4 linked regions of the Homo sapiens genome follow. The protein of the gene in region 1 purifies or fractionates together with the protein of each later gene. This does not show direct contact. Each region holds a gene or a part of one and is shown in the gene's direction. Other genes may lie near its edges. The genes, in order: PCDHB16, MTHFR, PDZD8 and POMT2.

Evidence for each region.
Region 2: the proteins of PCDHB16 (region 1) and MTHFR purify together in Homo sapiens (affinity purification with mass spectrometry; 2 studies listed by BioGRID and IntAct, with this or other methods). This does not show direct contact.
Region 3: the proteins of PCDHB16 (region 1) and PDZD8 purify together in Homo sapiens (affinity purification with mass spectrometry; 2 studies listed by BioGRID and IntAct, with this or other methods). This does not show direct contact.
Region 4: the proteins of PCDHB16 (region 1) and POMT2 purify together in Homo sapiens (affinity purification with mass spectrometry; 2 studies listed by BioGRID and IntAct, with this or other methods). This does not show direct contact.

What each region holds. Positions count from the first base shown.
Region 1 is NC_000005.10:141,178,425-141,185,408, forward strand, and holds the start of PCDHB16 (protocadherin beta-16 precursor), read left to right. Parts: upstream 1-3,962; 5' UTR 3,963-4,135; coding exon 4,136-6,466; 3' UTR 6,467-6,984. Other genes in the region: PCDHB8 (protocadherin beta-8 precursor), read left to right, coding at 1-2,016. UniProt on the Homo sapiens protein: Potential calcium-dependent cell-adhesion protein. May be involved in the establishment and maintenance of specific neuronal connections in the brain.
Region 2 is NC_000001.11:11,785,208-11,788,981, reverse strand, and holds the end of MTHFR (methylenetetrahydrofolate reductase (NADPH)), read left to right. Parts: coding exon of another isoform or gene 1-330; 3' UTR 331-603; coding exon of another isoform or gene 604-833; 3' UTR 834-934; coding exon of another isoform or gene 935-1,109; 3' UTR 1,110-1,488; coding exon of another isoform or gene 1,489-1,594; 3' UTR 1,595-3,259; downstream 3,260-3,774. Other genes in the region: uncharacterized protein C1orf167, read right to left, coding at 1-330, 604-833, 935-1,109, 1,489-1,594, 3,693-3,774. UniProt on the Homo sapiens protein: Catalyzes the conversion of 5,10-methylenetetrahydrofolate to 5-methyltetrahydrofolate, a cosubstrate for homocysteine remethylation to methionine. Represents a key regulatory connection between the folate and methionine cycles.
Region 3 is NC_000010.11:117,372,436-117,380,130, reverse strand, and holds the start of PDZD8 (PDZ domain-containing protein 8), read left to right. Parts: upstream 1-4,690; 5' UTR 4,691-4,903; coding exon 4,904-5,775; intron 5,776-7,695. UniProt on the Homo sapiens protein: Molecular tethering protein that connects endoplasmic reticulum and mitochondria membranes. PDZD8-dependent endoplasmic reticulum-mitochondria membrane tethering is essential for endoplasmic reticulum-mitochondria Ca(2+) transfer.
Region 4 is NC_000014.9:77,310,852-77,317,883, reverse strand, and holds part of POMT2 (protein O-mannosyl-transferase 2), read left to right. Parts: intron 1-5,850; coding exon 5,851-5,935; intron 5,936-7,032. UniProt on the Homo sapiens protein: Transfers mannosyl residues to the hydroxyl group of serine or threonine residues. Coexpression of both POMT1 and POMT2 is necessary for enzyme activity, expression of either POMT1 or POMT2 alone is insufficient.

The sequences.
Region 1 (6,984 bases):
TCTCCAGTATTTCTGGACAAACAAATGTTGGTGAAAGTATCAGAGAGCAGTCCTCCTGGGACTGCGTTTCCTCTGAAGAATGCTGAAGACTTAGATATAGGCCAAAACAATATTGAGAACTATATAATCAGCCCCAACTCCTATTTTCGGGTCCTCACCCGCAAACGCAGTGATGGCAGGAAATACCCAGAGCTGGTGCTGGACAAAGCGCTGGACCGAGAGGAAGAAGCTGAGCTCAGGTTAACACTCACAGCACTGGATGGTGGCTCTCCGCCCAGATCTGGCACTGCTCAGGTCTACATTGAAGTTGTCGATGTCAATGATAATGCCCCTGAATTTGAGCAGCCTTTCTATAGGGTGCAGATCTCTGAGGACAGTCCAATAAGCTTCCTGGTTGTGAAGGTCTCTGCCACGGATGTAGACACAGGAGTCAACGGAGAGATTTCCTATTCACTTTTCCAAGCTTCAGATGAGATAAGCAAAACTTTTAAGGTCGATTTCTTGACAGGAGAAATTCGACTAAAGAAACAACTTGATTTCGAAAAATTTCAGTCCTATGAAGTCAATATCGAGGCGAGAGATGCTGGAGGCTTTTCTGGAAAATGCACCGTTCTGATTCAAGTGATAGATGTGAACGACCATGCCCCAGAAGTTACCATGTCTGCATTTACCAGCCCAATACCTGAGAATGCGCCTGAAACTGTGGTTGCACTTTTCAGTGTTTCAGACCTTGATTCAGGAGAAAATGGGAAAATAAGTTGCTCCATTCAGGAGGATCTACCCTTCCTCCTGAAATCTTCTGTGGGGAACTTTTACACCCTACTAACAGAGACACCACTAGACAGAGAAAGCAGAGCCGAGTACAACGTCACTATCACCGTCACTGACTTAGGGACACCCAGGCTGACAACACATCTCAATATGACCGTGCTGGTGTCGGACGTCAATGACAACGCCCCCGCCTTCACCCAAACCTCCTACACCCTGTTCGTCCGCGAGAACAACAGCCCCGCCCTGCACATCGGCAGCGTCAGCGCCACAGACAGAGACTCGGGCACCAACGCCCAGGTCACCTACTCGCTGCTGCCGCCCCAGGATCCGCACCTGCCCCTCGCCTCCCTGGTCTCCATCAACACAGACAACGGCCACCTGTTCGCCCTCAGGTCGCTGGACTACGAGGCCCTGCAGGCGTTCGAGTTCCGGGTGGGCGCTTCAGACCGCGGCTCCCCGGCTTTGAGCAGCGAGGCGCTGGTGCGCGTGCTGGTGCTGGACGCCAACGACAACTCGCCCTTCGTGCTGTACCCGCTGCAGAATGGCTCCGCGCCCTGCACCGAGCTGGTGCCCCGGGCGGCCGAGCCGGGCTACCTGGTGACCAAGGTGGTGGCGGTGGACGGCGACTCGGGCCAGAACGCCTGGCTGTCGTACCAGCTGCTCAAGGCCACGGAGCCCGGGCTGTTCGGTGTGTGGGCGCACAATGGCGAGGTGCGCACCGCCAGGCTGCTGAGCGAGCGCGACGCGGCCAAGCAGAGGCTGGTGGTGCTGGTCAAGGACAATGGCGAGCCTCCGTGCTCGGCCACCGCCACGCTGCACGTGCTCCTGGTGGACGGCTTCTCCCAGCCCTACCTGCCGCTTCCGGAGGCTGCCCCAGCCCAGGGCCAGGCCGACTCTCTCACCGTCTACCTGGTGGTGGCGTTGGCCTCGGTGTCTTCGCTCTTCCTCTTCTCGGTGCTCCTGTTCGTGGCGGTGCTGCTGTGTAGGAGGAGCAGGGCGGCCTCGGTGGGTCGCTGCTCAGTGCCTGAGGGCCCCTTTCCAGGGCATCTGGTGGACGTGAGGGGCACCGGGAGCCTGTCTCAGAACTATCAGTACGAGGTGTGCCTGGCAGGAGGCTCAGGGACGAATGAGTTCCAGCTCCTGAAACCAGTATTACCTAATATTCAGGGCCATTCTTTTGGGCCAGAAATGGAACAAAACTCTAACTTTAGGAATGGCTTTGGTTTCAGCCTTCAGTTAAAGTAATTGATTTCATATTATATATTTTAATTTTTATGATCAATTCAAAGGAATGGTTTTCTGTCAACTTAGCATAAATTTTAAATTACACTACATTTGCCCATAGTATTTGTCTTGTTTTCACTGTTTTAAAAAATGATATCTCATCTTCTCTTCATTAGTATATCCAGTGGACTCTAATCATAATTCTTTAACAGTGCAATTTTTGTTAAAATGTACATAGTAAAATGCACAGATCTGAAGTGAAGAAATTAATGTAACTGATCTTTTTAAGCCTTTATTTTTTGATTTCTAATCTAGGTAAAATTTAGTTAAAAGTGGTGTAGAGAATGTTTTACATTTATTGCCTTTTAAATGTTTCCCCAAGTCCTAAGGGAGTTGACATATTATCCCCTTTTTTAAATATGAGAAAACTGAGGCTTAGAAAGGTAACTTGGCTGTGAGCTGTGGCTCACACCTGTAATCATAACACTTTGAGAGGCTGAGGCAAGCTGAACCCTTTGAGCTCAGTAGTTCGAGACCAGCCTGGGCAATGGGGCAAAACACTGACACTAACAAAAATACAAAAATTAGCCAGGTGTGATTGCGAACCTGTAGTCCCAGCTACTCAGGAGGCTGAGGTAAGAGGATCCCCTGAGCCCAGGAGACAGAGACTACAGTGAGCCAAGATTGTGCCATTGCACTCCAGGCTGGGTGACAGAGTGAGACCTCATTCCCCCCCACAAAAAACGATTAACTTTCTTATAATTCTGAAATAATAAAGGTAAAAATTTAAAATATAATCTAAGTCTAGCCAATATGCTATATGGTCAGGCATTAACTGATAGCATTGTTTTTCTAACTAAGGAAGTGAAATTTATGTTATTCCTACTCCTACTCCATGAACTAAACTCTCATGTGAAAATATAAGTTTTAGTTTATAGTTTGTTTATACTACTCTGCACAAATATACCCATGTTCTTATCAAAGCTCTAAGTATGCTGGGACAGATACTACAAATGAACTTTATGATGAGCGAATTAACCTGATTTATAGTCCTGTACTTTCTCTACGTGCCATATCCATTATTAAAGAAATGAGTCTAAGTAGGAAGTAGAGTTAACCTATAGTTTCATTTCTTGAATTTCTTATTCTCTTTCTTCAGTCTTTTTCAGTTAACCTACACACACACACACACACACACACACACACACACACACACACATATGTTTATAAGTGGGATGGGAGAACGGGTACGGTGATAATTAAAAGAGGTAAGGTTTCTCTTGAGATGAAAATGTTCTAAAATTGTGATGGCGGATGCACACCTCTGAATATATTAAAAGCCATTGAAATGAAAAAAGGGTGGGGGGAATCCAAAAGTGTAGCAGACCCAACCTTGAGATTTGCTTGTTTGGGAATGAATTTTCCAATAACTTGAAAGTTGTAAAAACTCACACTTCTCAGGGTTAGGTGTCAGAAAGAAAAGGAAGTAATTTATTCTTTAATAAAGCAATTGTTAAATACTCTTTAGAACTACCACTGATTGCAATTTTGCAGTGTCTACTCATAGTGTCTATATAGGTACCATGAAAAAGATGTACTTGTGAAACTGTTCTCATGTTACTTCAGAAAAATTTTGCTTCTAAGTGTGTATTCTATGTCTGGTTAAATGTTCATTGAATTTTATTTAATCATTAATCTCAACAGCATTAAACAGTCAATAACATAAATGACAGTCTTCTCTTTGTACTCCTCCCTGTACAACATCACAGAGCTCCATCTGTATACACGAAAGTCACATGAAAATAGAACTCAGTGTTTTGTATTACATAGTCTATTCAGTACATTTAGAAGTATTTTGCCTCCAATATTCAACCACAGTAAAAGACTCAGTGAGAACGCGTGGTGGCGCTGCAGGTTAAGATGACGGAAAATACAACTGCCTACGCAGCTCCAGGATCCAGCAAACCGTTTCCCAAAGCCTGGAAGCAGAAGAATAGCTGAGCCAGAGCGAACGTGAGTGTGAAACCTCTTTAAGACACCGTTGGGCTGCTTGGTTCTGACATTCTGGACTGCAAAACAGTTCTACTAGGATCCTGGGGATACATGAAGCTTCTGTGAACCAACTTTTCAAGAAAAAGCAATGGAGATTGGATGGATGCACAATCGGAGACAAAGGCAAGTCCTTGTTTTCTTTGTTTTGCTGAGCTTGTCTGGGGCGGGCGCCGAGTTGGGGTCCTATTCCGTAGTGGAAGAAACGGAGAGAGGCTCTTTTGTGGCAAATCTAGGAAAAGACCTGGGGTTGGGGTTGACAGAGATGTCCACCCGCAAGGCCAGGATCATTTCCCAGGGGAACAAACAGCATTTGCAGCTCAAGGCTCAAACTGGGGATTTGCTCATAAATGAGAAGCTAGATCGAGAGGAGCTATGCGGTCCCACTGAGCCTTGCATACTACATTTCCAAGTGTTAATGGAAAACCCTTTAGAAATATTTCAGGCTGAACTGAGGGTGATAGATATAAATGACCATTCTCCCATGTTCACTGAAAAGGAAATGATTCTAAAAATACCGGAAAACAGTCCTCTAGGAACTGAGTTCCCTCTGAATCATGCTTTGGACTTGGACGTAGGAAGCAATAATGTTCAAAACTATAAAATCAGCCCAAGCTCTCATTTCCGGGTTCTAATCCATGAATTCAGAGATGGCAGGAAATACCCTGAGCTAGTGTTGGATAAAGAGCTGGATCGGGAGGAGGAGCCTCAACTAAGATTAACCCTGACAGCGCTGGATGGTGGCTCTCCACCGCGATCTGGAACTGCTCAGGTCCGTATTGAAGTGGTGGACATCAATGATAACGCTCCTGAGTTTGAGCAGCCCATCTACAAAGTGCAGATTCCAGAGAACAGTCCTCTTGGCTCCCTGGTTGCCACCGTCTCCGCCAGGGATTTAGACGGCGGAGCCAATGGAAAAATATCATACACACTCTTTCAGCCTTCGGAGGATATTAGTAAAACTTTGGAGGTAAATCCTATGACAGGGGAAGTTCGACTGAGAAAGCAAGTAGATTTCGAAATGGTTACGTCTTATGAAGTGCGCATCAAAGCCACAGATGGGGGAGGTCTTTCAGGAAAGTGCACTCTTCTCCTGCAGGTGGTGGACGTGAATGACAATCCCCCACAGGTGACCATGTCTGCACTCACCAGCCCCATCCCAGAGAACTCGCCTGAGATAGTAGTTGCTGTTTTCAGCGTTTCAGATCCTGACTCCGGAAACAATGGGAAGACGATTTCCTCCATCCAGGAAGACCTTCCCTTTCTTCTAAAACCTTCAGTCAAGAACTTTTACACCTTGGTAACGGAGAGAGCACTCGACAGAGAAGCAAGAGCTGAATATAATATCACCCTCACCGTCACAGATATGGGGACTCCAAGGCTGAAAACGGAGCACAACATAACAGTGCAGATATCAGATGTCAATGATAACGCCCCCACTTTCACCCAAACCTCCTACACCCTGTTCGTCCGCGAGAACAACAGCCCCGCCCTGCACATCGGCAGCGTCAGCGCCACAGACAGAGACTCGGGCACCAACGCCCAGGTCACCTACTCGCTGCTGCCGCCCCAAGACCCGCACCTGCCCCTCGCCTCCCTGGTCTCCATCAACGCGGACAACGGCCACCTGTTCGCCCTCAGGTCGCTGGACTACGAGGCCCTGCAGGCTTTCGAGTTCCGCGTGGGCGCCACAGACCGCGGCTCCCCCGCGCTGAGCAGAGAGGCGCTGGTGCGCGTGCTGGTGCTGGACGCCAACGACAACTCGCCCTTCGTGCTGTACCCGCTGCAGAACGGCTCCGCGCCCTGCACTGAGCTGGTGCCCCGGGCGGCCGAGCCGGGCTACCTGGTGACCAAGGTGGTGGCGGTGGACGGCGACTCGGGCCAGAATGCCTGGCTGTCGTACCAGCTGCTCAAGGCCACGGAGCCCGGGCTGTTCGGTGTGTGGGCGCACAATGGCGAGGTGCGCACCGCCAGGCTGCTGAGCGAGCGCGACGCAGCCAAGCAGAGGCTGGTGGTGCTGGTCAAGGACAATGGCGAGCCTCCGCGCTCGGCCACCGCCACGCTGCACGTGCTCCTGGTGGACGGCTTCTCCCAGCCCTTCCTGCCGCTCCCAGAGGCGGCCCCCGGCCAGACCCAGGCCAACTCGCTCACTGTCTACCTGGTGGTGGCGTTGGCCTCGGTGTCGTCGCTCTTCCTCTTTTCGGTGCTCCTGTTCGTGGCGGTGCGGCTGTGCAGGAGGAGCAGGGCGGCCTCGGTGGGCCGCTGCTCGATGCCTGAGGGCCCCTTTCCAGGGCGTCTGGTGGACGTAAGCGGCACCGGGACCCTGTCCCAGAGCTACCAATACGAGGTGTGTCTGACAGGAGGCTCAGAAACAAGTGAGTTCAAGTTCCTGAAGCCGATTATCCCCAACTTCTCTCCTTAGGGCACTAGGAAAGAAATAGATTAAAATTCCACCCTTCACAATAGCTTTGGATTTAATTATTGATAGGAACCCATTTGATAAATTCCTTAACTTCTTATGATTGTCTTGTTGATTAAATTGTTCATGCTCACCACCACCAATAAGGTATTTTTCTCTGATTGTTAGTTCAAATTATATTGTTAATTCCAGTTTCCCTTTTCCTCATATTTACCCCGAAGAGGTGTTGCATATAGAATCCCAATTAACAAAATATACTTTATCTTCAAAGTTGATGTCATTTAAAATTTTTCCGTCTTTATATTTTATTTACTTCCTATTCATTTTTTGCTCCATTTTTCATGTTACTTCTCAGTTTCCTAGAACTTCAAGTATTAAAATAACCTGTTGCATGTATTAGGCATATTTCCTATGTTACATTTCTTTTGTCTATTTTCCTTTCAAAATTGGTATTTTTGTTGGGCTCAATTTTCATTATAATACTTTTCTTAAAGTTTCTTTCTTTCTTTTCTTTTCTTTCT
Region 2 (3,774 bases), on another chromosome or scaffold:
TCGCAAACTGATGGACCGGGTGGGCCTGGCCTGAGCTGGGGCCACAAATCAAAGCAAGGGCTCCAGCATCCAGCCTGTGTGTTCTGTAATGGAACTGACCCCCTCCCCTGAAAACGAAGGGGCCCCGGGGCTGGCAAGCAGGGAAAGCTCCACGGTGCGTGGCTGTGGCACAGACTTCTGGAAGGCTGGCTGAGTGGAATGCAGGGAAGAGGGCAGTACCTGGGAAAGGACCCACCCATCTTCCTGCTGCTGTAACTGCTGAGCCACTCGCAGTCGCAGGATCCGCTGCCACCACGTCTGCCAGGCCCATCTCAGGTGCCACTCCCTGAGCTTTGGGGACAGTTGGCAGAGAAGGCCTCTTGTGCTCACGCTCCCCCGCAGTCCCCAGCCCTTCTGCCTTTCTCCCCCGACACTGCTGCACCAGAGTGAAAGGGCTATGGCAAGGGGGTGTCATCTGAGGAGTATTAAGAATGCAGATTCCTGGGCCTGTCCCCCAAGGTTTTGGAGTCAGTAGGTCCAAGGGCCATACTTTTGAGAGGGGTTTGGGTTAAGTATGAGGTGAAATGGGAGATGGTCAGTGTGGAGAGGGGTGCACCCACTCACCAGGGTCCGCACCAGCTGCTCTGCCCCTTGGGCATCCACCCAGTGCTGCCATGCCACTGCCAGGCACCTGGCCTGCTGGGAACCCCGCAGCCCGTGAAGCAGTGCCTCGAGGCACCGGCGCTGCAGGTACTTCCTCCTGATGGCCAAGAGCATCGTGACCCTTCAGGGCCAGAAGGAGGGCAGAGCCATGGGCCTGGGCCTGCTTTTCCAGGATCCTGCAGGAACGAGCACTGGCCAGAGAGGGCCCAGCTGTAGCCATGGCTCAGGCAAGCCCCTCAGCCCTTGCCCCCATCCCTCGGACCCACCAAACTGCACACACAGCTCCTCTTACCGTAGCCTCCGTTTATGGGCCTTGCTTTGGGCTTTGCAGGCTCTGGGCTCAGGGCTGGAGTGCGCTCTTGGTCCCTGGTCCCTCGTCCACAGGGGCAGGCCTGGGACCCAGCTACTCTGTCCAGGCCACTGTGGCCAGAGCTGGAAGGCAGGGCAGAGGGAATGTTCCCTGCACCCTGGAAAGGGGAGTTGAGTCACAAGAGGTTAAGGTGGGTCCAGGAAGGCAGCTGCTCTTAGTGCCCGCCTAGGAGTTGAGTACAGTGAGGAGGGTGGAGGAAGGTGCTGAGCTTAGCCTTGTGCCCTGCCCCCATCTCCCCAGGCCTCCAGCCTCTCCCGGCTGCCTGCCGCCCAAAGAGAAATCACAGGGGCGGGGCAGGAATGCAAAGTGTTTTCTCAGAACAGCTGAAACATTCCGAAGAGGGAATGGATGGGGAGAATGGTCAATACACATAAGACCGTGTCCCAAGGAGCTGATTTCCAGGCCCCTGAGGACTGGAGACCGCTTCACCCCTGCACTTCAGACACCGTTTGTCCCCCGGGGCAAGGTCTCCTTACTCTGAGCCCAGGCCGTTCCCCTTGGCTTCCTCCGTCCACCCAGGCTGCACTGCAGTGATGGCGCGGGAGGCACCAGCTCTGTGGCCTGTGTCCAGCAGCTGCGGGTCTGAAGGAATAGCCAGAGAGGAGCACCTGAACCCCATGGGCTTGGACTTCCTGGGGCCCCGCTGGGATTTCTTCGCTGCTCTAGCTGGCAGGACACATCCCGGCCTCTTCCACCCATTCCCCCATGTGGCTGAAGACATTCCAACAATGGGGTGGGCCCATAATAGTTAGCCCTCAGTCAGTTCCCGGAGCACAGCCCTGGGAGGGGGCTATTTCTCTCCCCACTGAAAACATTTCAAAGCTGAGTTACTTGTCTGAGGCCTCATCCCTCGGAAGCCGTCTGACTCCAGAGTCTGAGCCCCCGGCTAGTACCCTATAGAGAGGGGGCTCTCCAAAGGGGCTGCTGGGGCATGTGTGCCTGTGGCAGAAAAGAGGAGACCCTGGAATTCAGCACCCTGGGTGCCATTCCCAGCGTTTAGTTTCTAGAGGCCTCAGTTTCTCCATCAGCTTATGGGATCCTTGTCTTTACTGACAAGAATGGAATAGAAATGTAAAAGTACTCTGAAAAGCAATTGCCCTGTAACTTATCTAGAAAGAAAAGACCCTGAGACTCCAGAATCTGCTGTTGCCATAGCCCCATATGTGTGAATTCTGCAACTAGCCAAGGCTAGTTCCTTTCAATTCCATTTAAAAAACAAAAACCAGCAGGTGTGGTGGCTCATGGCGTAATGGGCCTGCCCAATGCTTTGGGAGGCCAAGGCAGGTAGATCGCTTGAGCCCAGGAGTTTGAGACAAGCCCTGGCAACATAGTGAGATCCCATTTCTACAAAAAAAAAAAAAAAAAAATTAGCCGGGTGTGGTGGCACACGCCTGTAGTCTCAGCTACTCAGGTGGCTGAGGTGGGAGGATCGTTTGAGCCCTGGAGGTTGAGGCTGCAGTGAGCTGTGATCGCACCACTGCACTCTGGCCTGGGCGACAGAGTGAGACACTGTCTGAGAACAAAAAACGACTGAAAAAAAAAATCACCTTAGCTTTTTCTCTTAGAATCTTCTCTAAAACGTATTCTTTGTGGCATTCTGAAATAGGATTCATGATGATGCCTGTTGATCTTAGGGACACTACCTCACCTGCCAGTATCTTTGGGGCTGTGTCCTTCAAGGACATGTCCCCAGACTGCTGTGCAGTGTCATTTTTTGTGTTTGGTTTGGTGGTGGCTTCTTCCCCCTTGCTAGGCTATCAACCTCTTATCACCACTTGTTGGTGTCAGAACTAACTGCTTCTGGTCTGGAGAGGGACTGACCGATGCCTTTGGGTAGAGAGAATTATGAAAGAAATTTTGGTATTTTTCTACTTTATATTTTCTGAGGTTTCTGTAATAAGCATATTTCACTTTTCCAATAAGAAAAAAAAAAACTTGGCCTGGCGCGGTGGCTCACACCTGTAATCCCAGCACTTTGGGAAGTCGAGGTGGGAGGATCACTTGAGTTCAGGAGTTCGAGACCAGCTTGGGCAATATGGTGAAACCCCGTCTCTACTAAAAATACAAAAATTAGCCAGGCGTGGTGGCGTGCACTTGTAGTCCCAGCTACTCAGGAAGCTGAGGCGGGAGAATCACTTGAACCCGGGAGGCAGAGGTTGCAGTGAGCTGAGATCACTCCTCTGCTTCAGCCTGGGCAATTGAGCCAGACTCTGTCTCAAAAATAAACAAAAAAACTTGACAAAAAAATGCTACTGTCCTCGTGTACCTATTCTGATCCTCAACTGCACCGTGAGAAAGCATGCATTTCAATGTCTCCCTAACAGGCTGTGACCCAACATGCTGGTCTTTGCGGCCGGACCTGCAGTGGCCTGGCACTCGAGAGGTGCCAGGTTCATCTTTGCTGATGGATTCAGAGTTGCTTGTCAGAGGCTGACTGAGAACTGGGGAGAGGTGGTGCATACGAGGTTGCTGGGCCCCTGGGGAGGCATCCAGCCATGCTGCCACCACCGGCTGAATCAAGCTGATTCTAAGGCCGGTGGTCCGAGGGTCATTTTTGGACCTCCCGCCCTGCCTAGGCTCCCTTCACCTGTTTCCAAGGGGCTGGGGCGTCCAGCAGCAGGCTCCCCCTGCTGGCCATCCGGGGCCAGAGCGTGAGGTCAGTCTGGGGCTTGGGGCGTACCTTGCCGGCCCCTGGCAGTCCCAGCCGCACCCTGAGCTGCACTGTCCGCAGGAAGCGCCTGAGCTCAGCCGGCCGGAGCTGG
Region 3 (7,695 bases), on another chromosome or scaffold:
TTTGATGGCATTGTTATGGGACATGGAAGAAGATGCTGGTAATGGAGAAAAAATGGATAAATGTGGTAGTGGAGAAAAATGTCTGGGTTTCCTTGAGGGCCTTAATAAGAACGAAGACCATAAATTTATAATGTAGAGGGGAGGAGGTAGATAGTTGGATTCATTTAGGGTTGAGGTTTTGCAGGTGGAGATGGAAGGAAAAGTGTTAATGCCATTCTCTAGCTTAAAGACCTTTGAAGACTTCACAAAAACTGCAAAATAGAATAAAAACTTGCCCTGACATTTAATCTCTCCATAATTTAGTTTGTGTCTACTTTATTATGCTACCTCCATCTCCCTTCTCTCCTTGATGCACCAACCTATTCGTACTACCTTCTTCCAGTCATCCTGGTCTCAATTTCCCCAAACTGGCGGGTTTCCATCTTCTGAGTTTTTGTCTCCTTCTGATTAGAATGCCCTTCTAATCATTAAATGCCAATGCAAATTCCATTTGCCCCAAAAGCCTCCCACCTTCCCCAGCAAGAATTAATCTCTTATCCCCTATTGAGCTAGTATTGCCCATCATGTCTTCTCAATCCTCTCCCAGTCCTTGAAGAAGTTGCCCCACCCACCAGCAGCCCAGAAGAGGCAAGCTCCTTGGTCATAAATTATTGGAGTAGCACAGCCAATTGGAGATTTCTCTCCCAGGATTTGAGATTGAGCTTGCAGGCTACCTTAGCCATCAGAGACATAGGACCCTCTAGATCTGGATAGAGAGCTGGTGCCTCCCAAAGTGCCTGTGTGCTGAGGGTAATGGGGAAGTAGAAACCAAGAGCCTTCTGGAGTAAAATGGCACAGACCTGCAGGGAGATGCAGAAATAAGATACTGGGTAGGGGTGGGGGCAGAGGAAATGAGAGTGAGAGACAGTTTTCTTACTCTAGGATTTCTATGAACATCTTGCAGCTGAGTTCCTGGAGATATTCCAGCATCCTTAACGTGAATCCAATTTTAGTTGTAAGTTAGCCTGAGGTAGTTGCTGTTCCTTGCAATCAATTGTCACTGCCCCTGAACCAGAAGGCTCTGCTCCCATAGTACCTTGCATGTGCCTCTATTAGAGCACTATCTCCTATCATCAGAGTTATGCAGATGTGTGTCTGCTTCCACCTGGGGCGCAGCGCCCCTGTTCATTCAGTATCCCTGGAGCCTAGTACTTGTTGGATGCTCAAAAAATAGTTGTGGAATTTGAATTCTCCCAGTTCACAAAATGGTTTGTTGATGTATCATTTGTTAGGCAAACCTTATAAACTCTATGTTTCCCACCATATTTCACTATATTTGCATTATTTTACATCTTTCAAAAAATCAAATTTGCTTTCATGCTACTCACAAACTTTGCACATTTACGTGGTTTGGCTTTCTCATTATTTTTCGCGGTCACCAGGAATGATTCATAGTCAAGCAGTGGTCCATGCATCCCTCTAGTTGGTGAGAATGTCTTATATGCAACCCATCTTCCAGTATTCAACTGACTTCGACCTTGAAATGGATATTTCCATGAAGGCTGTTGGGGCAGCTTAATTTCAATGATGTCATTTAAAACACATTAAAAAGTCAGCAGGGAGGCTAAGCACAACTGCTTCCTTTAAAAACCTATTCAGAATCATCGATCTTCAGAGCTGGGGCCAGTGGTTCTCAGGCTTTTGAGTTTCTATGAACCAGCATTAATATAAGAAAAAAAGGGAGGGGTTGCTGAATTTATCCTTTTCCAGAAAATAGCATTAAAACAAATTCGTCTCTATTAACATAGTATAATTTCATAAAATAAAGGGCATGCTAACACCAATATTATCCAGAGCATTATCTCCTAACTTATCAAACACAGTCAAGTGTGGCTTAACAACAGACATAAGTTGTGAATCTTTAGGCAGTTTCATCATTGTGCGAACATCAGAGTGTCCTTACACAAACCTAGATGGGAAACCCTACTACATACCTGGGCCATATTGTATAGCCTATTGTTCCTAGGCTACAAATCTATACAGCACGTTGCTGTACTGAATACTGTAGGCAACCATAACACAATGGTATCTGTGTATCAAAACATCTCTAAACACAGAAATGGCATAGTAAAAATACGGTACTATAATCCTATGGGGCCACCATCCTATAGGCAGTCTGTCGTTAACAAGAACATCCTTCTATGGTGCATGACTGCATATTTGACTTTACAAAAACTCATGATATTTTGATTTCTAAATAATGTTTGAAATATTTAAATATTTCTAAATAACATGCTTAACACTGTGCTTGGCACATGGTCAGTTCTCTGTATTATTATTATTAGTGTTTAATCAATGTTGGTCATGTTTCACACAAGGGAGAATACTTTTTTCTTCCCAAAAGGTTTGCTGAGCTCTTTCATGGATTTGAAGTGTGTCCCTAAGGGGTCAAGTTTTGCTGGGGAATGCAATGACTCTGACTCTGTAAAACAAACTGAGAAGATTTAAGATTCTCACAGGTATTCTGAGGAGCGCAGAAGTGAGAGGAGAAGAGAAAAGAAAGGAGTCTGCAAGATGAAGACTGAGGACTCATTCCCATGAAGACCACAAACTTTCATTGTTGAGGAGGGAGGTGGGTGAAGAATATTTTGCAACTCGGGATGGATCAATATACAGTTTGAGGGTTTTATATTTCAGGAATGTGAATAACTTCTTTCATGCCACCCTACTTCCAGCTTCTGTAACATTTATAATATGCAATGTGCATGAATGTTATGAATAGGTTTACGGTGGAAATCATAGAAGGGTCTACATTTCTCATTTGAGTTGAAACAGTGTAGATCCCAGAGAGCAGCCCAGAAGCAGAGGCCAGGAACCAAAGGGGACCAGAGAACAGAAGTTGCCAAGATCTCCGAAAAATCTCGGCCATGGTTTGAGCATGGTTCCTCAGCAGACACCTATCTTATGTCTTCATAGTAATGAAAGCCATTCTGGTTTCGTATCTGGGCATGATTCGGTAAGGCATGATAAGCCTGGTTCCGAAGTTCTGTACCTGTCCCAGCTGGGTCAGGTCTATTTTTGTGGTAGAATCACCTACAGTTAAGAGAATCCTTGGCTTGGAGGTTTTCTTCTTTTTTTTTTGAGACAGGGTCTTGCACTGTCGCCCAGGCTGGGGTGCAATGGCGTGATCTTGGCTCACTGCAACCCCCGCCTACCGGGTTCAAGTGATTCTCCTGCCTCAGCCTCCTGAGTAGCTGGGACTACAGGCGCGCACCACCACGACCGGTTAATTTTTGTATTTTTAGTATAGACGGGTTTCACCATGTTGGCCAGGCTGGTCTCGATCTCTTGACCTCGTGATCTGCCCGCCTCGGCCTCCCAAAGTGCTGGGATTACAGGCGTGAGCCACCACGCCCGGCCGGCTTGAAGGTTTTCAAGGGCTAGAGAGGAGCCCTGCCCTGGCTCCTTAGGTACAGCCAGAATCGGCCTTTAAGGTATGGGATATCTGACTCCTGCAGGACTGGAACTCCACGTGCTTGGAGGGATAAGCATTTATGATGTAACCACTAAGTAGTCAGAGGGCAGGAGGAGTAACGCTGTTGCTGGGCAACCTGGCTTAGCTTCGTGGCTTTGGTTAAGGTGCTACTCTATGCAAAATTCCTTGCCGTCTTCCCTAATCCGCCTCCCCAATTCTCCCTTCCTGAACATTAGGGAACCCACTGGCCTGCTTACAACTGAAGCAGTTTCTGTGTTAGGGCAGAGAGTAGTGATCAAGACATTAGGGTTTAGTGTTAGATAAACCAGGCTCCACTCTGCGGCCCCACGCAACCTCCCCACGCTCTCTGCACCAGTGTTGGCATCTGTCAAGTGGGTGGGGGCTAACAGTGAATAACTGCCTCATAGATGGACTACCGGCTTAACCAGAGACTGACAGCGGGTCGCATATTAATCTTCCAATCACTTGGCAAACTCGTTTCACTATGCATCTCTCCTCCTGGCTGTTCTTTCAACTTCCTCCTCCCTGAAATTTCGAAGATCCACCTCGGTGGGAAAGTCATTCCGCGTGGCGCGCCCTTTCCCTGCGTCCCTCCTTCCCAGGGCCCACCCTCCGCGGACGCAGAGCGTCTGCCGGGGGGACGGCAGGTCCGCGATGGCTGCCTCTGAGGCAGTCGGTCCCCTCTCGCCGTGGGCTTGGGAAGCGTCCGAAAGGCCCGCTCGGATCGTCTGCGGTGCTGCCCGCAGGGAAAGCGCCGCTGCCAGCCGGGCTGTCACGGGTGCGAGTGGAAGAAGCACACCGCAGGATGAGCGACGCCGCTGCAGAGGTAACCGCGGGGACTGCGGCCAGAGACGGGGGATGGGCGCAGCCGAGGATAACGGGATGGCCGGCATCCGGAACGCGTCAGGCCCGCTCCGCCGGACCGCCTTATCCTCCAGCCCGCGTCCCCAGCCGTCCTCCCAGATCCCGACCGCAGCTCCAGAAGTGACGGCCACGTGGGTGGCGGCGCGCGCCGCGGGGATTGGAATGTTGGCGTGGGGGGACGAGGTTGGAAGGGCCGCAGAGAAGTAAAGGAGGACCCGCGTCCGCGTGCCCGGGCGCCGACTGCTGGGCGACGCCGCCGGGAGCGAGCACGCCTCTGACGTCACGCGCTGCTCGTCCAATGAGTGGAGGCCTGAGGGAGGCGCCGGTCCCGGCCCCGCTGCCGCCGCCGCCACACCGGCCCTTCGGGAGCGTCTGAGGAGGCGCGGGCCGCTGCGGGCTCGGGCGCCGCAGCGCGCCGGCCCGAGCCCCTGGACGAGGCCCACGGAGCCGCTCGCCCCGACCCAGCCGCCCGATGTCCTCAAAATGGAGGCAGCGGGGGCGGCGGCGTGAAGAAAGCGGCGCTGTGGGCGCGGGAGTAGGGGCCCGGGCGGAGGCGGTGGCGGGATGGGGCTGCTGCTCATGATCCTGGCGTCGGCCGTGCTGGGTTCCTTCCTCACGCTCCTCGCCCAGTTCTTCCTGCTGTACCGCAGACAGCCCGAGCCGCCGGCGGACGAGGCCGCCCGCGCGGGCGAGGGCTTCCGCTACATCAAGCCAGTGCCGGGCCTGCTCCTAAGGGAGTACCTTTATGGCGGCGGCCGGGATGAGGAGCCCTCCGGAGCGGCCCCTGAGGGCGGCGCGACCCCCACCGCGGCCCCCGAGACCCCCGCCCCGCCGACGCGGGAGACTTGCTACTTCCTCAACGCCACCATCCTATTCCTGTTCCGGGAGTTGCGGGACACCGCGCTGACCCGCCGCTGGGTCACCAAGAAGATCAAGGTGGAGTTCGAGGAGCTGCTGCAGACCAAGACGGCCGGGCGCCTGCTGGAGGGGCTGAGCCTGCGGGACGTGTTCCTGGGCGAGACGGTGCCCTTCATCAAGACCATCCGGCTCGTGCGGCCAGTCGTGCCCTCGGCCACCGGGGAGCCCGATGGCCCTGAAGGGGAGGCGCTGCCCGCCGCCTGCCCCGAGGAGCTGGCCTTCGAGGCGGAGGTGGAGTACAACGGGGGCTTCCACCTGGCCATCGACGTGGACCTGGTCTTCGGCAAGTCCGCCTACTTGTTTGTCAAGCTGTCCCGCGTGGTGGGAAGGCTGCGCTTGGTCTTTACGCGCGTGCCCTTCACCCACTGGTTCTTCTCCTTCGTGGAAGACCCGCTGATCGACTTCGAGGTGCGCTCCCAGTTTGAAGGGCGGCCCATGCCCCAGCTCACCTCCATCATCGTCAACCAGCTCAAGAAGATCATCAAGCGCAAGCACACCCTACCGAATTACAAGATCAGGTGAGCTGGAGGTCGGGGAGGGGGCCTGGCTGCCGGGAACCCGGGCCTGGGCGGGACGCTGCGTGGATTGGGAAGGGCAAAGGCTCATTTCTGTCCTGGCGCCTGCTTCTGGGGCCTTCCCACCCTGGACAGGGCCCCAGATCAAGGCGAGTCGTGAACACTTGCTTTGCTTCCGAACGGCATTGATAGGAGCTAGAAACCTTTTCGCGTGTTCATGGGGACTCAGGGTGCTGTCAACGCGGGCAGAATCGTCTCCTTTTATAAGCAGCATATTGGAAATGGAAGGGAAGCCTACCCTAATCCCCAGGAGTCGCTTCTGGGACTGTTGAGAAACTCTCCCTCTATGTGGTTGCTGCATTGAGGGCAGCCGCGTCACTGGCTTTGCAGCATCCCCTTGGCCGCTTTGAGAAATTGTTCCTGGACACAGTACACGCGTGAAGAGTGTGCTTATAGCCCAGGTCTGTGCTAATTTGACATTGCAAGCCACTTTTGCTTTGATGGTTTGACACCTTTCAAGGCAGAGGTGGTAACTCTTGCAAAGGAATACTTTTGTGGGTTTTTTTTGTTTTTGTTTTTGAGACAGAGTCTTGCTGTGTCGCCCAGGCTGGAGTACAGTGGCGCGATCTCGGCTTACTGCAACCTCTGCCTCCCAGGTTCGAGCGATTCTCCTGCCTCAGCCTCCCAGGTAGCTGGGGTTACAGGCGTATGGCACCACGCCTTGCTGATTTTTTTTTTTTTTTTTTTTTTTTTTGTATTTTTTAGTAGAGACGGAGTTTCACCGTATTGGCCAGGCTGGTTTCGAACTCCTGACCTCAAGTAATCCGCCTGCCTCGGCCTCCCAAAGTGTTAGGATTACAGGAGTGAACCACCGCGCCCGGCCCGGGAATACTTTCCACAGCAGATGGGAAAGGAGTTGGGAGCCTGTACATAGTGTACTTTACATTTTGTATTAATGTCATTTGCCCATTTTGGGTAGATTGTAGAACACAGATCCAGACTCTGCCCATCAAGCATTTACTCTCTGTGACTGTAAGTTCTTCTCTCAAGGGACCTGAAGTCACTGTACAAATTGTATTTTAATGCTAGGTAGTGATTTTAATTTTGTTTAAGCCTTCCAGCATCTGATGGCTTAAATTTTGTGGTATACAGTTTTGAGTAGTATATAAATTTTGTTTTAATATTGTAGGAGTGGAAGGGGAAAGACTTTTTTAGGGCTAGAGGTGGAGTGGAAGGTGCTTTTTCTTTTGTAAAAAGCTGAATTTTTAACTTCTCTTTCGGTCCTCCTTTAATTTTGTATTCACTAAGACATTTGAGCCTTTAAAATTTTGCCCTTTATTATAAAATTATGTCAGTCTTGTATTTTACTTACCTAATTTTACTTGCCTTTTAGTGGAAGTTGCCTATTTCTGGATCACTAATTTTCTACCAGTGTCAATTTTCAGGAGCAAGATAATCCAGAAATATTTTGGGTTTGGAATGGATTATTGACTTCTGTATGTGGCAGATGTACCTTACCAATTATGTTTTGTTTAGGCTAACAGCGCAGAGTGACAGTTTAAAACTTGCGTGGCAGGAGAAATTTACTTTGTAATGGAAATATTTCCATAGATTTGCGGAGGGTGGTGAACTGGTTGTTCACTGTGTTCGATTTCTGGTTCTGTGAAGTAGAACATACTTTATGAAACCTACTTTTAACCTCTGGAATATCAGTGATTAAATTATAACTCGGTTCTAGTGTTTAAGCAGTGAGAGATGTTTATTTATAGCAGTGTGTTGCCAAAAAAGTCATGAGAAAAAGTTGCTAGAAATTTTGGTATTCTATCACAACTTCAATTATGATGTTTTCTGATAGCTTTCAGTTAATACAATTTGACTAGATTATTATTTTGAAATTTGTAGACTAGCCAATGACAGTGAGAT
Region 4 (7,032 bases), on another chromosome or scaffold:
GGCCATTCCAACAAGACAATCTAGTGACTGAACTAGAATTAAGTCTGAATTACATAGATAGCCTCCTCCTCCCAGCTGATCTGGGCTTTCTGTAAGGGGGAAGAAAGATGAATCATGGCCAGAAATGGTCAGGGGAGAATCTCACATTTTCAAAATAGGTTTATATAACCCTCCACCCCTTTTTCCTGATCATTACCCAGTTGGTAGGCAAAAGGAGATGACCCATTTCTGAGAATGGCTGCCTTAGGTGACCAAACTGCTTCAGTAAGGTTTGCAGACCAGGAGGAGGTTAAAAACATAGAATCAAAAATCTTTTTGAGTTGATCTTTGAGGGAACTGTTCAGTACTTGACAATGTCATGCCTGTGGATGGTAGGGAGTGTGGGAGGTCCATCGAATACCTTGGCTATTGACTGTTGACACTGTTGGGTGGCCATTGCGACAAAAAGATATGCCAGTGTCAGACTGTAGATGGTTTGGAAAGCAGAAAACCTGGCAGTTTAGTTTCAAGGGCCACAGTGGTATACACAGAGTCAGATAATTGGACTGGAAAAGCAACATCAGCACTGTAAACTGAAAAAGTATCAGCAGTAGCAAGGTACTGATGAGAGCCTAGAGAAGGGAACAAAGTCCTAATGTCAATCTCCCAGGAGCAGGTGTGGTCAGTGCCCCTTGCAATGTGGCTTCCTTTACTGCAAGACAAGCAGGCCAACTTTTGGCAGGAGTCACAAGTCTGGCACGCAGTGGTGGCTTCTGCCTCAGAAACATGTAGTCCCTTACGTTGTGCCTAGCCCATGATGGTAGATGTTTCCACACCGGTTGCATGAATCCAGGTGGCTATGGCAGCAGTCTTGGTGGTGCAGGCTGGATCAGCAGTTTGATTCCAGTCAGTCTTACGAGAGTACCTGCCCTTAGTGTGGGCACCTACGTGAGTGATCCAGTCTGTCCTATTGGCAGGCAGCCATGATGTGTTTCCACACTTCTCAGCTTTCATCTCTCAGTATTTAGTCTTCCAAGTGGCATACCAAATGCTTCAATCCTTACTGCCATCAGCCATCCAGAGTTATCATTGGGGCTAAGTGCCTGCTGCTGCTTGGTGGGCAACATCAGCTTTTAACTCAGCCTAATCATTGGTGAGCCAGGCCTAAGCATTTACAGGAACCCCTGTGAATCAAGGGCCCTACTGAACAGCAGCTCGGCTTCAGGTAGCAGAGAAGGTTGTTTCTCCCAGAGTGGGAGCTGCCACTTCTTCACGTAAAACCAAGATGCCTCTAGGGCCAGGCTAGCTATACTCTTTTTTTTTTTTTTTTTTTTTTTTAGAGATGAGATCTGACTCTGTTGCCCAGTCTGGAGTGGAGTGGTACAATCATAGCTCACTGCATCCTCAAACTCCTGGGCTCCTCCTGTCTCAGCCTCCTGAGTAGCTGGCACTACAGGCACGTGCCACCATGTCCAGCTAATTAAAACAGATTTTTTAAGAGCTGAGTTCTCACTATCCTGCCAAGGCTGGTCTTGAACTCCTGACCTCAAGCCATCCTCCTGCCTCAGCCTCCTGAATAGCTGGGATTACCAGCTGTACTCTTGAATGTACTATTTCCATAGGATCAGTGAGGCTTGTTAAACCCTTCCCTTGTTATCAGTAGATTCCCATTGACCCACCCCAAAGTGGGAATACTAGGCCAGGGAGTCCTGAGGCCTTTATGGGTCTGGCAATCAATTTCAAAGTGTTGAGTAGTTAACTAAGGAGTTAATAGCTGTCCTTTTAAAAAGGGTGTGCTTGGTACCTATGTCCAGCAGGTGGCACTGTGATTCTGGTGCATGGCTCTCAGTACTCCAGCAGCCACAAAGTTGTTTTTTGTTTGTTTGTTTTTGTTTTTTGAGATTCTCGCTCTGTCGCCCAGGCTGGAGTGCAGTGGCGCAATTTCAGCTCACTGCAACCTCTGCCTCCTGGCTTCAAGCAATTCTCTGCCTTAGCCTCCCGAGTAGCTGGGATTACAGGCGCCCCTATCACGCCTGGCTACCTTTTTGTATTTTTAGTAGAGACAGGGTTTCACCATGTTGGCCAGGCTGGTCTCAAACTCCTGACCTCAGGTGATCCGCCCGCCTCGGCCTCCCAAAGGGTTGGGATTACAGGCATGAGCCACTGCACCCAGCCGCCACGAAGTTTTTAAGCCTGTGATTTATTTCCTTTCCCTTCCAGGGATGTAGATTTTTTTCTTCTGGACCACCAGGAGAGGACAGGATCACCTGTCTACACACAGCAGCCCTTGCCCAGGATAATCCTCTTCGACACTTATGGGATCAGTATCAGCTATACATTCAGCACTGGAAGCCACAGGAATAGTACATTGAAGAGGCCCAAAGAGCTCTGCCTGGAATGTCACTTTAACTTCCCTTCCCTACAGGGAGCGTGGCTCAAACATTACCAGTTTAATCTGGACACTTTTTCCCCTCGAACTAATGCGTCTAGAAGGCCTGCATCAGGGGCTATGGTGACAGCCAGCCAGAGATTTTGCCATTTCCCAGTCGGAGAGTGTGGCGGTGCTGGCTGCAGGGAGTGGGGAGAAGCTTTTTCTGCTCCTTTAGCTCTTCACTAGGCTTGCATCACGACCTCCCCAGTGTCGCTCCCTCAGGGTTAGGGGCCCTTTTCCCTTTAGTCCTTGTGCGCACTGCTATGGCTGTCCCTGCAGTCCTGAGTGTCTGCAGTAACCTCTGTGTGTAGTACATCCTTCCCCCCATGAGACATGGTAGGGTGGAGATGTGGGACCTCATATCCAGCAGAGCCCTGAGTTTGCCCCTCTCCTCCCTGGGGCTCTCCAGCATACTAGGATGGGTGTGTATGACCTTCAGTCCCCTTTAGGGACATGGAAACCTCAGCCCAACCTTTAATCATCTCAGTCTTTAATGCAGCTGAGGTTGTGGTAGAGTGGGAGGGATCCTGGGACATAAAGGGAGAGAGTGGCTCCGAGCCACAAAGCAAGTCATATTTATATTTACTTTTGGCTTGAGTACACAGCTCCCCCAAGGATCTTTCAGTGTTTCATTTTACTCAAAGTTCTATCTTATATAGCAGGGTCCTATTGCCGCACCGTTGGAGACTTGTTGATTGAGCAGCCATATCCATATTGCCTTTTGGCAGGGGCTGCTGGGCTTGCTGCCATTGTCATGATCACTCCTCTTCCTCCTTTTGCCCAGAGGACAGGGCAGTAACCAGGGTGACATTCAGTGGCTTGTTTCAATCCTACCTCTTTCCATCAGCCTCTCTAATAGTGGGACAGTGGGGGACTCTCACTACCCCATTGCCTGCCCATGGAGGCCCTCATTCTTTCTCTTACCAAAGACTATGTCTCTCCTCATCCTATGCTTGTCTCCACACTGTCAGGGGCTGTGATTTTATCTTAGCCTACTTATTAGCTAATAAGTTAGCCTGTCACTGTTTTTTGCATGCTGACAGAAGACAAAGTCTTGGGTCAGAGACAGAGGACTTTATTTCTCATGGCACAGCAAGTGGGATGTGCATCAGCATGTTGGCATCAGTTTCCTTTGCCCCTAAGTCCCACGTGGTGCTGAGGGACTGGATGAATGCTTGCACATGCAGTAGCTTGCATCACAGCTGAGTAATATTAAGCTTAGGGAATCTGCTGTTTTATGGCAAGCAATAAACAAGACAGCCCTCTGTCTCAGAGGGAGACACTAACTTCCCTCAAGGTTGTTTACTGCAAACAGCATTCTTGGCATACCTTGCAAGGCCTGGAGGAGCACAAGAGAGCCACGGAGGACTGTCTCTCCTAACACAAGCAATAAAAGCCAGGAGGAAATATGAATGTTACAACTGGTTTTACTTGGGAAACTTTTGAAGTAAAAATCTGGAGCCCAGGCTGGGTGCGGTGGTTCACACCTATAACCCCAGCACTTTGGGGGGCTGAGGCAGGTGGATCACCTGAGGTTTGGAGTTTCGAGACCAGCCTGGCCAACATGGTGAAACCCCATCTCTACTAAAAATACAAAAATTAGCCAGGTGTGGTGGCGGCCGCCTGTAGTCCTAGCTACTTGGAAGGCTGAGGCAGGAGAATCGCTTGAACCCGGGAGGTGAAAAGTGCAGTGAGCCAAGATTGTGTCCATGTACTCCAGCCTGGGCAACAAGAGTGAAACTCTGTCTCAAAAAACAAGCAAAAACAAAACAAAACAAAACAAAACAAAAAAACTGGAATCCTTTTGTTAGTATGTTCCCAAACAGATTTAAAAACTAACCACAAATGTCAGGACAGTTTAAGGAGGGCCCAGCAGGGATGGTACTTTATAATCTACAGAATTCTTTCACATGTGTTATCTGAGTTGAGCCCTAAGGCCTCCCTGGGAGGTGGGCAGGGCAGATAATATTATTGTCTTCATTTTGTAGATGAGATAAGAGGACTAGAGAGAATAAGTGATTTTGGCGGGTTGTGCCATTAATTAGTGGTGGAGCTGGGACTGGATCTCTCTTTCTGCAAATCAGTTTCATTACCCTGCTTTGAAGTTATTTCTGTCTTCGACCTCACCATGCCAATGTCCTCACTGCCTGTCAAGGTGTTTAGCAGATGCTGAAATAGACCTATTCTTTTGCCTATCTTGGACCCACCAAGTAAGATATAAAAAGAACCTTAGATTCTTAGGTAAAGCATGTTTTCCCCTTATGTAGTAGGTCAATAATGACTGCTCATGACCTGGGGATTGATGACTACTAGAAAGTAACCCTTCTTTTGAGCTACAGGGAGAAAATTACAAATAGAAAAGGCCAGGCTCTGCTGGATGACTTGGCTGCGTTCCCAAAGCCCTCATGTATGGTGTAGAAAGGTGTATGTGGTTGTATAAAAGAGGACTTTGCATTGTGTTTGAAAGCCTGTTTATTCAAATCACTTATTTACTTGCAAAATAACTTAAGCAATGAGGATAGGTTTTAGATGTGGTCTTAATTTAGTAAGAAAGCCTTCAACTTTTATATACTAGTTAGTATAAGATCAGCCAGATCACAGTTAGCAGCTTACTTGTCACAGGGTGGCTGAGCAAAATGAGACTCCTGTGACACTCATGGTTTATAGACTCAACTCTGACCAGCAGCCCAACAGCGTCGTAATGGACCTTCTAATAGCAAATGTTGTCTCAGAAGTTAGCAGACTTGGAAGAAACTTTTTTTAATTTAAATTTTTGTTTACACTAGCTACTTGAAGATAGGAAGAAAACTTTTTTTTTTTTTGAGACGGAGTCTCACTCTGTCGCCTAGGCTGGAGTGCAGTGGCGCGATCTCGGCTCACTGCAAGCTCTGCCTCCCGGGTTCACGCCTCAGCCTCCCTAGTAGCTGGGATTACAGGCACGTGCCACCATGCCTGGCTAATTTTTTGTATTTTTAGTAGAGACAGGGTTTTACCATGTTAGCCAGGATGGTCTCCATCTCCTGACTTCGTGATCCGCCTGCCTCGGCCTCCCAAAGTGCTGGGATTACAGGTGTGAGCCACCGTACCCGGCCAGAAGAAAACTCTTACTACAAACCTTTCCATATTATGAGAAAACATCTTGTCCTTTTAAAATAAATAGAAACTCAAGATACAGAGTAAGTATATGTATATTTAACTCAATTGGTAACTGGCTAGTGAATATTTGCTCGCCTTTCTCATCTATCTAAATGAAGACCAGTGGCCAGCTTGATGTCTTTCTTCCTAAAATCACTTGTGTCAAAATATTTTTTTTTTAAATCCAGACTTTTGCATTAATTGTTTGAAATGCATAGCCTTTAATTTTAACCATGCTTTATGAAGGCCATTTGGATTTTATGATAATTTTAAAATTCTTGTTTCTCTTTCTGTGTTTCCTTTAGTTGGGATGAGACTCACTTTGGAAAAATGGGAAGTTACTATATCAACCGTACATTTTTCTTTGATGTGCACCCGCCCCTGGGAAAGGTGAGCAGTGTGGTGAATAGCAGCTCTCTGGTCCCAGAGGATTGTTCCTAAGGGCTGGAGCCACATCTTGATTTTGGATTTGGGGCTTCTAGAAAGAATTTGGGACTTGTAGAAAGAATTTTCTGACATTTCAGACCAGCTACTTTCATGGAAAATCTCTGGTGTTTTTTAAGGGTCCTCTGGGCTCAGAAATGGAAAGAGGGCCCATCAGCTGAGGGAGGGATGAACAAAGTGTGGCACAGCCATATGGTGGAATAATATTTGGTCATAAAAAGGGATGAGGTTCTGATACATGCTACAACATGGATGAACCTGGAAAACATGCTAAATGGAAGAAGCCAGACACAAAAGGTTACATACCCTGTGATTCCACTTATATGAAATATCTAGAACTGACAAATCCGCAGAGACACAAAGTAGATTAGTGGTTGCCAGGATCTCAGGGCAGGGAGGATTAGGCAGTGACTGCAAATGGGTGTGGGGATTCTTTATGGGGTGATGACATGTTACAGAATTAGGTAGTGGTGATGATTGCACAATCTTGTGAATATACTTAAAACCACCCATTGCACACTTTAAAATGGTGGATGTTATGTTATGTGAATTTGTCTGAATTTTAAAAAAGAAAAAAGAAATAGGAATACATTGCATGAAGCAGAAATAGCTTACGAGGCTGATATCCATATGGGGCTGACTTCTTTCTCCCTTCCCATGCCCAGCATACACATGGTTTGATCTGTTTCTCTCACATGTTTTACCATTAGAAATTCAACCAATTAGAATTCACTTTACTCTTTTTTTGTTTGTTTGTTTTTGAGACAGAGTTTCACTCTTGCCACCCAGGCTGGACTGCAATGGTACAATCTTGGCTCACTGCAACTTCTGCTTCCCAAGTTTAAGTGATTCTCTTGCTTCAGCCTCCCAAGTAGCTGGGATTACAGGCGCCCGCCACCACGCTGGCTAATTTTTGTATTTTCAGTAGAGACGGGGTTTCACCATGTTGGCCAGGCTGGTCTTGAACTCCCAACCTCAGGTGGTCCACCCGCCTTGGCCTCCCAAAGTGTTGGGATTACAGGCAAGCCACCGCACCTGGCCCA